3 separate regions of the Homo sapiens genome follow, and regions 1 and 3 are each linked to region 2. The links come from fine-mapping of genetic effects on gene expression. A gene starts in region 2. Each other region holds a variant in brackets. All regions are shown on one strand. Distances are between the middles of the regions.

The links. PIP is the estimated chance that this variant, and not a neighbour inherited with it, causes the effect. A credible set is the group of variants that fine-mapping cannot tell apart.
Region 1: its variant is the best candidate, but not a certain one, in a credible set for the expression of LINC02883 in sun-exposed skin (GTEx, PIP 0.78).
Region 3: its variant is the best candidate, but not a certain one, in a credible set for the expression of LINC02883 in whole blood (TOPMed, PIP 0.81).

Annotation. Positions count from the first base shown.
Region 1 is chr15:85,830,908-85,836,383 of GRCh38, reverse strand. No RefSeq gene overlaps it. Among named protein-coding and RNA genes, the nearest start is that of MIR548AP, 8.0 kb to the right of the region's middle. The variant G/A (reference allele first, on the strand shown) is at 2,547.
Region 2 is chr15:85,755,725-85,761,200 of GRCh38, reverse strand. LINC02883 (long intergenic non-protein coding RNA 2883) reads left to right here and starts at 2,476. Exons shown (of 6, transcript NR_120366.1): 1 at 2,476-2,690; 2 at 2,853-2,950; 3 at 3,212-3,317; 4 at 5,245-5,379. It overlaps KLHL25 (kelch like family member 25), which reads left to right. Exons shown (of 3, transcript NM_022480.4): 3 at 190-1,875. RefSeq lists an enhancer at 98-599.
Region 3 is chr15:85,698,368-85,703,843 of GRCh38, reverse strand. All of the region lies in intron 17 of AKAP13 (A-kinase anchoring protein 13), which reads right to left. Among named protein-coding and RNA genes, the nearest start is that of LINC02883, 58 kb to the left of the region's middle. The variant C/T (reference allele first, on the strand shown) is at 3,238.

The DNA.
Region 1 (5,476 bases), 75 kb before region 2:
GCAATTCTCCTGCCTCAGCCTCCTGAGTAGCTGGGATTACAGACACGTGCCACCACGCCTGGCTAAGTTTTTTAGTTTTTTTGTAGAAACACGGTTTCACCATGTTAGCCAGGCTGGTCTTGAACTCCTGACCTCAGGTAATCTGCCCGCCTTGGCCTCCCAAAGTGCTGGGATCACAGGCGTGAGCCACCGTGCCCAGCCAATATAGTTATTAGTTATTTCTTTTCTTTCTTTTTTTTTTTTGAGACAGAGTCTCACTCTGCTGCCCAGGCTGGAGTGCAGTGGCGTGATCTCAGCTGACTGCAACCTCTGCCTCCCGGGTTCAAGCAGTTCTTGTGCCTCTGCCTCAGCCTCCCGAGTAGCTGGGACTACAGGTGTGCACCACCACGCCCGGCTAATTTTTGTAATTTCAGTAAAGACAGAGTGTCACCATATTGGCCAGGCTGGTCTCGAACTCCTGACCTAGTGATCAGCCCACCTCTGCCTCCCAAAGTGCTGGGATTACAGATGTGAGCCACTGCATCCAGTGCAATATAGTTATTTCTTAAATTTATTTTTATAGTTATTCTTATGTCCCCATTTTACATTTCTCTTTTTATATATGGCTTTAATGAGCATAATACATTAATGTTTATAATTTATGAAAAAGTATCATCCTTGTAATTTCTACTTTGTGCATGGTTTTAAGGTACACCCTATATAAATCCAGTGCTAACTGTATAAACTATATGACTAAACAGATTTGCATGTAGTAGGGATGCATGATTTTTTTTTTTTTTTTTTTTTTAGAGAGAGTCTGGCTCTGTCACCCAGGCTGGAATGCAATGATGCGATCTCGACTAACTGCAACCTCCACCTCCAGGCTCAAGCGATTCTCCTGCCTCAGCCTCCTAAGTAGCTGAGATTACAGGCATGCGCCACCACACCTGACTAATTTTTGTATTTTTAATAGAGATGGGGTTTCACCATGTTGACCAGGCTGGTCTCCAACCCCTGACCTCAGGTGATTTCCCTTCCTCGGCCTCCCAAAATGCTGGGATTACAGGCATGAGCCACCACACCCGGCCTGGACAAGTTTTAAGACCTTCGAGGTGGAAGCTCAAGCTGCCTTTATGAGAGTCTTTTGGAGATTCTAGCAGTGAGTGAGGGCCTTCAAACACTGAACAAGCTACATTGGCCCAGACGTCAGCAGCACATCATTCTTCAGGTGGCCCCTTTTGTGGTGATAATGACAAGAAAACTGTGACTAGTGCACAGGTGGAAACCAGAACCAGAAAGGAAAAAGGGGTGGGCATTGTCTGGGGTTGCAACTGACAGAGTGGGTATGTGTGTGAGGCTCCCTCTGAGATCTCCCATGAATGAGTGAAGACCCTTGAAGGCTAATGTTCTTGTCTAGGGGGATGAGTGGCTCGGAACCTGCAATTTGGGCACAAGGGTAAGTGTGACTTCATTTTGCAATCACCACCAGATGGACAGATGAGATCCAGGGAATGGGGAAGTTTGGGGCTGGGAACTCACATGATGAGGCTGCTCAAGGCATCTGCAGAATAACCCTGAGGCTGTAGGTGTTGGGCTATTCCGAACTCCCTCTCTGGGAGGTTTTCATCCATGAAGGTAGGGCCTGAGAAAGGATACAAATGTGCAGAGCTGAGAGTTTGCAAAGCAAGGTTGAGTTCAGAAAAAATATCCTGGCCGGGCACAGTGGCTCATGCCTGTAATCCAGCACTTTGGGAGGCGAAGGCGGGCGAATCTCTTGAGCTCAGGAGTTCAAGACCACCCTGGGCAACATGGTGAAACCATGCCTCTACTAAAATACAAAAAATTAGCTGGGCATGGTGGTGCACGCCTGTAGTCCCAGCTACTCGGGAGGCTGAGGCATGAGAATCATTTGAGCCCTGCAGGTGGAGGCCGCGGTGAGCCGAGATCATGCCACTGCACTCCAGCCTGGGCAACAGAGAGAGATTCCATCTCAAAAACAAACAAGAAAGAAAGAAAAGAAAAGAAAAAATATCCCAGACAGACTCAATCCAAGTTCCTAGCCGTGTGGCCTTGGAGAAGTCACTCTCTGAGCCTCAGATGTTTCATCTGTAAGACAGAAATATTCTCTCTTCCTCAGGACAAACAAGGGGAGAGGTCTATTTATCCAGCAAAACCCTCCACCCTGCCACAACCCCCACCTCCCCCATAACCTTTCTCCAGGAAATGATATTCAAAAAACAAAGTCTTCCAGCTCCGACAAGGCCCCAGAGCAGAATCACCAGTTCACTGGACAATAACCTCAGTGACGTGATTTTTCCTCCCAGAACATATGGCAAGTGGGCCAGAGCTGGAGAAGTGGGAGCAGCCGCTGCAGAGGCCGGTCTTGAGAATGTCCTCATTTTGCAGCTGACCAACAGCTTCCCCTGGCATGTACAGGCAGGAGCAGCCCCTCTCCTTTCTAGCTGGGAGGAGAATGCCCACAGGCTTAGAGCAGCTATGCCAAAGCCCATCTTGGCCATTGGCAACACCCCACCCACCCACAGGGGTGCCAGAGGACTTCTCCCTGA[G/A]CACCAGGTCCAGGTGCCATGTGGCATTCTCTGGGTAGACACCGGCTCTCCCAGCCTCTCCGCCCACCTGCCCCTTCCCCATGAGGACACTGGCCACCCTCCTTCCCCTTCCTGTTCTGTCTTCCACTCCCTCTGGCTTCATAGACACCGCCAGGGCTTGTTCTCCTCCATCTCGGTCAGGCACTATGCCCTGAGGTTGGCACTAAATGGTGGGGGAGTCAGACCACCTCCAGAGCCCCTGCACGGTGGCCCAGAGTATGTGAACAAGGTGCTTTCCTGGAAGAACATCTCCCTTAAAAAGGTCACTCATACCAAAACTTGGGCATTCTTTTTACATTTTATAGAAAAGAAAAAGGATGACGGGCTTGGTGGCTTATGCCTATAATCCCAGTACATTGGGAAGCCGAGGCGGGCGGATCACTTGAGGTCAGGAGTTCGAGACCAGCCTGGCCAACATGGCAAAACCCCGTCTCTACTAAAAATATAAAAATTAGCCTGATATGGTAGTGCGTGCCTGTAATCTCAGCTACTCAGGAGGCTGAGGCAGGAGAATCACTTGAACATGGGAGGTGGAGGTTGCAGTGAACCAAAATCACATCCCTGGAAATCAAAAAAACAAAAAAAGAAAAGGAAAAGGAGGCACCATTCAATTCAGCGTGAATTTATCAAGCATCTCCTCCATGCCAGGAACTCTCTGGACACTAAGGATGCTGTAAGTGACATTCCCTGACCTCATGGAGCCCAAGGAGATTAAATGACCCCTATAACCTAAGGCAGTTTTTCAAATGTCTTCAAGCCTCCTGATGTGTACAAAAGGTAAAAACCCTGGTACCTCTGGTGGAAGAAGCCAGAGCGATCACTGTTTCTCACCCCAGGACTCCGGGAAGTTCTCAAATCACCATGCGGGGTCTCCTGCAAGATCTTGAAAAGTAATAACAGCTAGTGTGTATTAAACACTTCTTAGGGGCCAGGCACTCTTCTAAAAACATTAGCACCTGAACTCTCAGAACAAACCCATCATGTAGGAACTATGATCCCCATTTTACAGATGGAAAGGAGATCACAGAGAAGGAAGTCACTTGCCACAAGGGCTGACTCCAGGGCCCATGACTTGTGTTCTCACCTGGCCTAGCTGCTGCACAGAGCTCCTCACAAGCCGTGAAGAGCAGCGCCAGGAAGCCCCACCGCATCACCTCCATTCTGATGATGATGGTGGTGATGGTGGTGGCAGTGGTGATGAGGTAACTCTTAGTTCCTTTATTTCCTGCAGAGAATGGCTGGTTCCTCTAAATGGCTTGGTGATTGTTTTGTTTGTTGGGTGTTTTTGAGAAAGGGTCTGACTCTGTCACCCAGGCTGTAGTGCAGTGATGAAATCGCAACTCACTGCAGCCTTGATCTCCCAGGCTCCAGCAATCCTCCCACCTAAGCCTCCCAAGCAGCTAGGACAACAGGTGTGTGCCACCACACCCAGCTAATTTTTCTATTTTTTGTAGAGACACAGTTTCACTATGTTACCCAGGCTGGTGTCGAAATCCTGAGCTCACATAATCCTCCCGCCTCCCAAAGTGCTGGGATTACAGGCGTGAGACACCACGCCCAGCCTAATTTTTCTTAATGTACATTTTCATTTTACCAGTGCTATTGTAAGTGCTTTTTGCTGTAACACATTTCTAATACATTTTAAGCAAATGCGGCATTAATTTTGAAGGAATGATCCTTTCTTGTGAAGACCCTTATTCAGCCATTCCCAGGAGGGAGGAGGGACAAAGAGAGACTGAGAGACAGAGAGTGCAGGCGTTCGCAGACAGGAGACAGAATAAGAGAACATTTGCTAAAGAAATGACCCAGGCACTCAGTAAATGTTAGAAGACACGCGAGGGGCTTTTCCAGCGGTCAGTCCTGGCTGTGAATCTCAGTCCCACCCTGTGCCAGATGACATGTCGGACCAACTACATAAATCCTCCGAGCCTTGGTTACCTTGTCTGCAAAGCAAAAGATCTCATTGGGGTTTTCTCCCACATTAAAGGAAACAACCCCACTTTGCACAAAACCTGGAACAGAATAGGAATGCAGTGTGTGCCTTATTCAACCCCTTCTGGACCCTGAGTACAAGACTGAGAATGTCAGCAGAGGGCGCTGGCTGGTCTGGGTCCCTCAATCTGGGAAGCGTGCAGTGTGGATTCAGCGTGGATCCTCTGTCTTGTGGGTGGAGGGCTGAGGACTTTAAACCATGGTCAGATTCCCCCGCCTGTGGGCACTGTGCTGGGGACGGAAAACAGAGCTCTCTGAAGGTGCAATTACACGTCATTTGCATATCTTATAGAGAACAGATGCTCCTTTCCATCGGGAAACATTCCCATATGGTCTGGCCTTGTCGCAATTTCCAACAAGGGCTGGTTTTAAGTTTTGCAATTAAAGGTGTCCCTTGGCCACAGCCAGAAAACAAACTGAGTTTTCATTGAGCCCTGGAGGTGCCTTTGTTTTGCCTCTGACAAGAAGGAAGCCAGCCCTCTGGGCCCCAGGGCCCTGCCAGCTCTCCCTGAGGTCCCCAATTGAGGGAAGGGTTGGGGCCTTCCCTTTAAGGGTGGCTGGCAGTCCCAAAAAAAAGGCTGCGCTAGGGGGATTGGGAAGGGAATGGGAGGGAGATGAGATTAGAGGACAGGGCTAGGGCTGTCAGAATGAACTTCAGGAGACTTTTCCTCCAGCATCTCACATCCTCACTTTTCTCTACCCTAACCCTCTAGACCCCCATCTTCCATCTTTCCTCCTCTCTACCCTCAGGACACATACAGCCCCCAGGTCATAAACCCTCTTCAGATGAAACACACAGGTGGCATCATCGCTCTGCCAGCTGGCCAGGTCCTCCCTTGTGCGGCATCCTCAGGCCCCCCAGCAGCCCTGCATGATAAGGGGCTCTAGGCAGCCTCCAC
Region 2 (5,476 bases):
GCCACTCAGTGGGGAAAGCAGGCCTGGGGTGCCTGAATCACCAGACTGCGCTGCCGGTGAATGGTGGATCTGGCGTTCTCACGCCCGAGCCTCATGGGCAGCTGTGTCATTGTCATTTTGTTCCAGATCAGGTCAGAACAGAACAATGTGGCCACTGATTGATTTTCTCTTCCTCTCCTCCCTCCACAGACCGCGGCCTTCAGTGTCACAGCGTGGCCTTGCTTGTCTGCCACAGCGGGAGCTAAGCCGGCCCTGGGCCAGCACTCCGAGAGGTGGAAGGGGCCCTGCCAGCTCTGGGGAGCAGCAGCCTTGGGCTGTTCTGAGCTTTAGGCAAGAGAAGAGAAGCATCTCTTGCATCCGTGCCCCTGGGGGCCTCTTCAGCTTTGCAGTGGTTTGTGGGAAGACATACCTCCCAGAGGGGCATGGACTGCCACCAGGACTGACCCTGGCGTCGGGGAGAAGGACACTTGCAGAGCCTTGAGATCACCTGTTTGGCAGGTCCTGGACTGGGGCCGGGCAGGCAGGGGCAGGGAGGCGCCCCGGGTGGGCTTTGGGGCTGCGGCACTGCCACACATCCTTTCCCTCCTGGCCTGCCCTGCTGGGGCTCTACTGCCATCTATAGATGGTGTCCTGGGCCTGGGAAACTAGGTTCCCAGGGGTTGAGACCAGAAAGGTGACCAAGACAGATTTTTTAAGGTGCAGAAACTGCAGGGGGGCCTCAGTGACATCCATGAGGCCTTATTAGCAAAGGACACCCAGACCTCCAAGGTTTGTGGGCCCCTTCCACAAAGCTGTAAGTCCCAGCCCACCTACTCAGGGCCTTGCTCAGTGCTGTGGCCCGGTGGGGACACAGTTGCTCGTGGCCACTCAGTGGAGCTGGGCCTGCAGCAGACTCAAGGCTCCGAGTGCCCTGGGGGTCACCCCTCCCCTCCCCTCCTCAGAGCCCACCCTGAGAGGCAGCAGTGACCCCCATGGCACACACCTGCCAACAGCACTGGGGGCTTCTCCCCAGGAGACCACGCTGCCCTCCAAGACCAGGAGCAGCTGTGAGCTGGAGACAGCAGAGGGACCCCAGGGTGTCCCCTGCAGATCCCACCAGGGCCGCATCCATCTCAGTGTGGAGGACAGTGACGGGACCCTCACCATCCTCTTGCGTTTTGGCCCCCATTTGCTCCCTGAGCTCCAAGATAAGAATGGCCCCGAGAGAACTGCTGAACATTTGTTCATTGCTGTCACCTCCTGAGTCACTGGGGTCCCTCACCAGCACCTCCCTGACACCTGGGCTATGGAGAGGTTGGCGCCTGTCAGTGACCATCCTAATGCCTCTCGCTCACTCCCAAGCCACCATTTGAGAGGGAGGGGTGTTGGTGCCCTGACAGGGACTGGGCAGGGTGTCCAAACTTGGGGCTTCCCAGGCACCTGCAGTGTGAACACTGCTTGGCTGGCTCAAGATTAGGGCCGCGGAGGGGGCTGTGCACATACCAGTTACTTAAGCAGCCACGAGTGTCCCCCATGCCTTGGTGCGGGTCCTGGAGGCCTCTTGGGGGTGGGACCTTTGGGCAGGGTTTGCCCACTGACACGCCCGCCATGGGGCACTGGCTGCATGGGGCTCCTTGGACCCTGTAGACCCAGCAGACCCCGCCTGTGTCAGGCCAGCTGCCCGAAGGCACTTGGCTGTGGTCCCAGGGGACGGCTCTGCTGGCACACTCAGGAGCCTGGCCGCGGGGACTGCAGGGAGGGTGCCTGGACCCGTGGGGTTGCTTCATTGAGATAAAGCACACTTATCACATAGCACAAAGGACGTGCCATGGTGCTTTCCCCAAAAGTTGTGTTGCTTTTATCAGTTTTCTAACTTAATAAAAAGAGTTGAGAAAATTCTTTGCCTGCCTTGTGTGCTGGGATCAGTCTTGGAGACATTGCTGGTGGCTGACTTTGGTCTTGTCCCACCAGCCAAGGCTCAAGGCCTGCCTGCTGGCATCTGCCCCTCTCATGAGCTGGGAAGGGGGAACCCACCCAGATGAGAGGTCTCCCCATTCCTGTGCCTCCTGAAGTTGCTTTAGAAGCCATGAAGTTGATTCCGTGGAGAGTCCTGATCCTGTCTGCCCCTCCTGAGAGTGATTCTCTCCTGGAAACTCTGGTAAATAGAAGTTGGGAATGTAATTCCATCCATTCGAAAAGGCAGAACCTCCAGTTGATGCTCCTTTGTCTGAAAATAACCCGAGCGCCATTCAGAGGGGCGAAATGGCTCCAGGAGGCAGCTTCACGGCCGCAGCGCCAGCTCACGGCACCGTTGCGCCCACTGGTTGCACCGTGGGCCCTGGGCTACCTGCCCTCCTTGTGCGTTTTCATAGTCACCATGAACCTCATGAGCTCAAGCGTATGCTCACGGGTAAACATCGTGTTCTGTGTTTTGTGATCTCACCTTCAGGCGCCCCTCAGACAGCGGGCAGCCCGAGAAGGTCATGCCGTGGCGCAGCCTGCGTGCAGGGTGGCTCTGCTGTGAACAGGAACCCGGAGGTGCCCCAGCACGGTGGCTCTCAGCAGTGGCTTCCGTGGTGCTCAGTGGTGTGCTGGCCCACAAAATCCAAATAGCGCCTTCACAGTGTAAGAAGTGCTTCTGATGCTGGCGTAGGGGCATGACGCCAGATTCCTTAGAAAATGGAATGATCTTGAGCGGGTGTGTCTCAGAGGTGAGTATGGTGCGTGTAGAAGAGCCAAGAGCACAGAGGGCCTCGTCCCTCCCCCTGCCCAGAGGTGCAGCCCTGGGAGGGGCATCCTGGGACTCTGCCTCGCACTGTCTGCTCCTGTAGCAGTGGTGGGGACCACAGGTGAACGCTACCACTTCCACACAGGCCTGAGCGCTTCACTCTGGGCATCCAAAGCCAGGAGTTGGCTCCAGCTAGAGTCCAGACAGCAGCAGAGGTGAAGTTCCCTGTCACACAGTCACAGGGTGAGTGTGAGCCAGCTGTGGCCCACAGGGCTCCAACTCTCTCCCCCTCTCTCCCTCTCTCTCCAACTCCCACCCCCTCTCTCCCTGCCCTGCCGTCTTCCATGCAAGGCAGCGGTTTCCTGGTCCACCCTGGCCTTCGCAGCCCCGGCCATCCCATCTGCATTCCAGCCAGTGGAAAGGGGAGGAGAGAAAGTGATGGGCAAGCCTGTTTTAAGGGCATGTCCCAGAAGTTGCACCATAACTTCTCCATTTTCCCAACAGCTAGAACTCAGTCACATCCACGCCTGACTGCGAGCGGGACTGGAAAGTGCCCCGAGGAAACTCCAGGACTCCAACGCCAAGTAAAGGGAGCGTAGATATTAGACAGGTAGCAGCCTCTTCCTCTACATGCTGGGTCAGGGGTTGGAAGGAACCTGGGCACACCGCCCTGCCTCCCGCTTCTCTGGGAGCATGCAGAGCCGTCATCTGCCAAGATCCTGGCTCTTGTCAAACCCTTCTTGTCAAGCAGTTGTCAAGCCCACTGGCCAGTGCTTTGCATAACTACCTCCTTTAACCCTCACAGTGACCCCCGGAGGTAGACATTCTTGTCCTCTTCTTGCTGATGAAGAAATGGGTCCACAGGTCACAGTAACTTGCCCAATGTCTCATGCTGGAAAGAGGAGGAGGAGGAGGAGGAAAAAACACGGTTGCAACTGACAGAATGTGGATTTGGAGCTAGGCCCACCTGAGTTTGGGTTCAAGCTCTCACGTGTGGCTCTCATGTATGTGCAAGCTTGGTTAAACCACTTGATTCTCTGATACAGACTTAATGATAGTAGGGTTAAAAGTTGAGGTCAAATTCTATAAAGCACTAAACACCAGGACCAATGCCCAGATAGCCCTTTACAGGGGGAGAATGGCCGCCACATTACAGCAGTGGAACTGGGATTTGAAACCAAGCCATATGCTACATTGTGGGGGCTGGGGGCTGGGAGCAGTGTTGCTTCCAGTCATTGCCCAGCAGGCCTAGCTCCATGTTCCTTGGCCTCCCAGGGGTCAGACTGAGTCTGGGATGGGGCTTGGGGAAGGGAGAAGGCGCCTTCCCCATCAGTGATGGGGCAAGGTCTCCCTGGAAACCTCGGTCCCAAGATGGCCAGTGGAGCTTTCCTGGGTTGTGCCTGATGCAGGAAAGAAAACGGGCCATCTTGGAGGCTTTGGCATCCTGAGAGCCTGCCTGGGGGGACTGTCAAGTTGCCAAGGGCAAGGAGAGGGTAGCCAACTGCCTCCTCCACCTGGCTGCTCAGCCAGGTCTCCCTGCCTTCAAAGGACATTTCTTTGGTCAGGAATTGACAAGAATGAGCCCAGAGTCATCCACCCCAAGGGTGTGTGGCAACCATCCCTTGCTCAACACCGAAGGCTGTAGAATCATAGTGGGGAAAGAAGCAACTTCTTCAGAAGCAGTTGTCTAATGAGCACAGCTTGGAAAGAGCCTTGGTTCTTCTGGATCATCACTGGGGGGATATTTCGCAGAGCAAGAAACTTGCATGCCCCGTCCATCATGTCCCAGCCCCGGCCCCAGGCCCAGCCCCGATGGATCTGCCCGGCCTCTCTCCTTCAGGAGGTGGGAATGGTCTCTTCCAACTTGAAGAGGCCATGAAGGTGATCGGCCCCCCAGCTGCTCTTCTTCCCTCAGGCCCAACCCTACCTGACCTGCAGCTTGGCCCGCCCATGGCACCTGCAGAGGTTCAGGCCCTGCCCAGGGAGCCAGGGTGATTTGGGTGAATTTCCCAGAACGGGCACAGTATTGTCCTGCATCTTCCCTTGCCTTGTTGGGCTTTGGGATGTGGCTCTGCCTCATTAAAGGTCAAGGAAAAGCCTAGAATAGGCCGGAGGCTTCTTAACTTGGGATTTGGGATCAAATTCAGGGGGTCCATGCACTTGGGTGGGAGAAGAATGACACCTTTGTTTTCACTAACCTCTGACTGAGGTTAGTGATCAAGTGATCCGCCCACCTCGGCCTCCCAAAGTGCTGGGATTACAGGTGAGAGCCACCTTGCCTAGCCCCAGTCACTGTTGAGGTCACCATTTTAAAGCTGAGGAAACATGCTCAGCATGGCAGCAGAAGCTCTGGCAGTTTCTGTGTGTCTGGCCCCAGCTGCCCAGGCCCCCTGAACCTGAGGGGCCTTGCTCTGGCCCTGGGGTTGGCCTGGGTTTGGCACCTGGCGCTCGGGCCCCTGAGGGCTTGCAGTAGGGGAGCAGTGGCTTTTTTGAGTTGAATTTAGTAGGGCTGGACTCCTTTCCTGTCCTTTCTGCAGGTAAAGGAGATGAGCAGCGTTGCTCTGGTACGCAGAGAAGCTTCCAGACACTCCTGGGTTGCACGATAGATTAAGTAATTCTACTGATGGGCACCAGCTCCATGCCAGGACCCAGGGCTCCAAAGCCATTTCCAGGTAGACTCATCACAGCTTCTCCACTCAGCTTGCAGGGATGGTGGGGAACCAGGGAGGATGGGAGCAAGAGACACATCCTGCCAAGCCCACCCTGTGG
Region 3 (5,476 bases), 57 kb after region 2:
TGAGATGGAGTCTTGCTCTGTCACCCAAGCTGGAGTGCAGTGGTACGATCTTGGCTCACTGCAACCTCTGCCTCCTGGGTTCAGGTGATTCTGCTGTCTCAGCCTCCTGAGTAGCTGGGATTACCGGTCCATGCCACTACGCCTGACTAATTTTTTGTATTTTTAGTGGAGATGGTATTTCGCCATGTTGGCCAGGCTGGTCTCAAACTCCTAACCTCAGGTGATCCACCCGCCTCAGCCTTCCAAAGTGCTGGGATCACAGGCGTGAGCCACGGCACCTGGCCAATAAATAAAATCTTTGGGGGATTTGAGACATCGCCCTATCTGGACTAAGAGTGCTTATATGCAAAAGGCATGTGAGATGTTCTTGGTAGCTGGTGTAATAACCACAGTGCTGATGTACAGAACAAGAAGAAAGCCACAAAAAAGAGCCAAATCATCTCAGCTGAAGTAGCCCCAGCAGCAGTTTTCGTAACAACACTGGTAAACAAAAATGAAATAAAATGAAAGTATTCTGCTTAAAAAAGAATTGCCTTTATTGCTTAGGGTCTTTTTTTACCTTCCTTTTCCCTAAGTAATAAACTTCCTTCCTTTAATCAACTATATGTATTTTATTCTCTCATATAAGCAATGAACTATAAATGCCAGAAAACTGTCTAGAGGGCAACTTTTCTGATGAAATCAGAAGTAAAATCTAACCATCACACACATTCTAAATTCTTATGTTTCCTACTTAGATTGCAGCTGGTTTACTTGTTTATTTTTTATGTAAAAGAAACAACCTACCACAAAAGTACTGAAATGCTGCTAGCACAACAGAAAATAAATCAGCAATAATCTCAGTATCATTTTACATCTGTTTAAAGCAAGCAAAACAGAACCACTGGCAAGACCCCAAAACCTGAACATAACAAATTCCTTATTCTGAAAGACCCCACTAAGTCACTAAGCTTTTCAAAGAACAAATTATTTGTGGCAGCTGGAAAGAACAGCTGACTATTCAAGGACAGCTTTACATAATAGAGAAATAAGAGTTGAAAAGACATTCCTCTATTAACCCTGTTAAAGTCACCTAATCCTAAAGCAAGAGTAGCGTTTTGGCTGAGATAAAAAGTCCCAGTTTCTTGTATAAACCATCATAACATATCATCATGATGGACTATATGGCTGATCTTTCTAACCACAAGTCAAAGGTGACTATGCAGTGCTGAGGGTATGAAGCTCTATCCAGGGGTCAGCCAAACAGGGTTACACTTAACCACAATGGGAAGCCACTGTCTCCTAAGAGCACAAAGGTTTCCTAGGAGGTAAACGACTAACTGCATGGATGCTACATTTCCTACGACTCCTGGGAAGATCCTGGACATGAGACGCGATGGAGGGAAGTGACGAAAGATTCTGCGTCCCCAAATTACTCATATTTTCTACTTCCTGCCAAGATAACACATGGGACTTCCTACATACAAACATTCAGCTTCTTCAGGAAGCTGAAGATAATCAGCCCATTACTTTGGTTCCTTTGAGAAGATGACTACATACTATTTTGTTGCTTTCAATCCTTTTCACTCCTTTTGTGTGTGTGTGTGTGTGTGTGTGTGTGTGTGAGTCTTGCTCTGTCACCCAGGCTGAAGTGCAATGGCGCGATCTTTGGCTGACTGTAACCTCCGCCTCCCGGGTTCGAGCAGTTCTCCTGCCTCAGCCTCCCAAGTAGCTGGGGATTACAAGCGCCCACCATCATGCCCAGCTAATTTTTTGTATTTTTAGTAGAGACGGGGTTTCACCATGTTGGTCAGGCTGGTCTTGAACGCCTGATCTCGTGATCCACCTGCCTTGCCCTCCTAAAGTGCTGGGATTACAGGCGTGAGCCACCGTGCCTGGCCTACCCCCTTCTTTTTATAAGAGGCAGGCTGCAGACTGTCTTACATAAACCTTAATGCTATCACCAGATGTTGAGACTATTTCTACATTACTTCTGGAGTAGGGTGGTATGCAAATTAAAGAATGTATTTTTGAAACTTAGTGCATATTAGGGTAACAGTCAAGCCCAACTTAAACTATTCCTTTTTGCTGTCTGATACTTTTCAGTTTAAACCTCAAATATAGCCAGGCATGGTGGCTCACGCCTGTAATCCCAACACTTTGGGAGCCTGAGGAGGGTGGATCACCTGAGTCAGGAGTTCAAGACCAGCCTGGCCAATATGGTGAAACCCCAACTCTAATAAAAATACAAAAAAAAATTAGCCAGGTGTGGTGGCGTGTTCCTGTAGTCCCAGCTACTTGGGAGACTGAGGCAGAAGAATCGCTTGAACCTGGGAGGAGGAGGTTGCAGTGAGCCGAGATTGCGCCACTGTACTCCAGCCTAGGTGACAGAGTGAGACGCCGTCTCAAACAAACAAAAAACAAAAAAAACCCCTCAAATATGTTAACTCTTTTTCCTGGTTTTTGCTGAGCAGGTAGAACTAAGATAATCTCTGATATTTGATTAGATCAAGCCATTACCAAAAATCAAAGAACAACTAGCAAAGGTTATTATGACCCCTGTCCCCACCGACAGACTTCCCAAACAGAAAAGACTTTAGTCTAGTGATAACACACTGGACTTCATGAAATAACGTGCCTCCAGAAAAAGCAAATTCCTTGGGTGACTTCATATTAAAAAAAGTCCCATTCCACTTATAAACACTATTAGCACAGAACCAGTAGCCAATCCACTATTTCACTGGTTTTCCAAAATACTAGAAAAACTCTAAAAAGTCTTATATGAAATATTAATATACTGTGTTCAGATATGTAAAACAGTACAGATTTATTTTGAGTTGCAATTTTAATATTTACTTTCAAAGTTAATGAGAACAATGAAGCAGCTGTGATGAACTAAAAACGTGAGGTCAGAGGTGCATGACATTCGCAATTCACTTACCTACCACAACCTCTAATTTCTTTATTTAATTTTGAGTACATGACACAGAGAACATCTTAACGTTCTTCATGTAGATAAATAACCAATATTAGCAGTTTTTTTTTAATGGCTTGCCTTGCAATCACAGTATAATCTTCAATTAATTAGAGATGGAAGGAAAAATACAAATGAATAGGTAGGCTGATAGCTAAAGCTGATATGTTGATGTTAAAATTTGGGAATTATACCTTTAAGAAGGTACGTTTTTATGTAGTTTTAAATATACACAAATTCAGAAATCTGTGGAGCTTCCAAACACCTGACATCCTGAAAGCTAC[C/T]GCCCTATCCATTAAACTAATTACTACACAGAAGTGTGGCTGAGAATCTCAGACCCTCAAACCTTTCCTACAGTTTTCCCCAGTCAATACCAAACCCTACACAAGTGATTCTCCACGGGTACCTCTGGCATCGTTGGGCAATGGAAGTCTCCAAGAGGTAACCCAGATCTTGCTCTCCAGAGGCGGTTCTAGCACATACGACACTGATAGCATAAGGAGTCTAATAACTTGTGGTGTCCTAGCTATGTGTGCTTCATCATCCAGGGAGTCCAGTAAAAGAGAATTTCTATCATGTTTAACAGGAAGACATATCAAGAAAGCAAAAATGGGCTTAGGATGCCTGTGCATTCTCCTACATTAACTGAATATTTCTGCTATCTGATAAATTTATTATATGCCAGTTACAGGTTTAATTCTGAGTGATAGTCTAATGTAGACAAAGACTTAATATAGCCAAAGAGGGCAAATTTCAACTATTTGTAACCTAGAAATAATGTATATACACAAGTCAATGGCAATACAAGGCTAAATATACACTGGCATATATTAGACAACTTCTTTTAGCCTGAACTTAAAATTGCAAAATTATCTGGAGCTAGTCATGGAAAGGTACAGCCACTCATTATAACCATAAGCCAACGGTTCTTAAATCTATTGTCCTCTATAGCACAAGATTCTTTGGGTCTTCAAAAAGACTGTCTATAACTTTCAACCTTAAATCTCCTGATAATGTTTCACATCACAATCCAGAACTGAGAGTTGGTAGATCAACTATACTACTTCTGATTCAAGCTGGTGCTATCAATAACAGTGGTAGAACAACTCTCCTCAAGGCTTATAAGCTTACTCTGTTCTGGTAGTAATTCTGCTTTGTCCATTAAATTCTCAAATCAAATACCAACTTATTTTGTGCCTTCATCAGAGATCAGCTGATAAATAACTAGAAAAACCTTTGAAACTATCAGTGGTCCAATATTTACATTTTGTTTTTAGACATACAAATAATATGTAAGTACATTCTCTAAAAATTCAAACAATCTAAAAGAATAAAATAAAGAGTCCTCTTCAACTCCTTTTCTCCTTATTTCTCTTTCTTCAGATTGTTAACAGTTTGGTGTATAGCCTTTCAGATATTTTTGTAAAAAGAATTTTTTTTTTTTTTGAGATAGAGTTTCACTCTTGTTGCGCACGCTAAAGTGCGGTGGTGTGATCTTGGCTCACTGCAACCTCTGCCTCCTGGGTTCAAGTGATTCTCCTGCCTCAGCCTCCTGAGTAGCTGGGATTACAGGCATGCACCACCACGCCCAGCTAATTTTTTGTTTTTTAGTAGAGATGGGGTTTCACCATGTTGCCCAGCCTGGTCTTGAACTCCTGACCTCAGGTGTTCTGCCCGTCTCAGCCTCCCAAAGTGCAGGGATTACAGCTGTGAGCCACCATCCCTGGCATATTTTTGTAAATTTATATAAACTGTTTGTTTTCCATAAACTAGGATCATGCTGTATATATTGTTCTATTTACTGACTTTCCAACTCATCAAAATGTCTTGGAGAGCTCTGTCTGCACCTGCAAATCTCTCCCAGGGCTTGGCACACTATGGTCCTTGGGCTGAATTAGGCCCACAGCCTGTATTTGTAAATTTTTTTTTTTTTTTTTTTTTTTTTTTGAGACAAGGTCTCGCTCTGTTTCCCAGGCTGGAGTGCAGGGGCTCGATCTCGGCTCACTGCAACCTCTGCCTCCTGGGTTCGAGTGATTCTCCTGCCTCAGCCTCCCAAGTAGCTGGGATTACAGGCGTGCACCACCATGCCCAGCTGATTTCTGTATTTTTAGTAGAGACGGGGTTTCACCATGTTGGCCAGGCTGGTCTCAAACTCCTGACCTCAAGTGATCTACCTGCCTAGGCCTCCCAAAGTGCTGGGATTACAGGCATGAGCCACCGTGCCAGGCCTGTAAATAAATTTTTATTGGAACACAGTCACATCCATCGTCTATGGTTGCTTTTGTGCTACAAGGACAGAGTCCAGTAGTCATGACAAAGACCTGATGGGCTGCAAAGCCTAACATACCATTGGTTCCTTTGCAGAAAAAGTTTGGCAACCTCTGATCTGTCCTATATTCTCTCTCTCCTTTTTTTTTTTTTTTTTGGAGACAGAGTCTTGCTCTGTCACCCAGACTGGAGTGTAGTGGCTCAATCTCGGCTCACTGCAACCTCTGTCTCCCAAGTTCAAGCAATTCTCCTGCC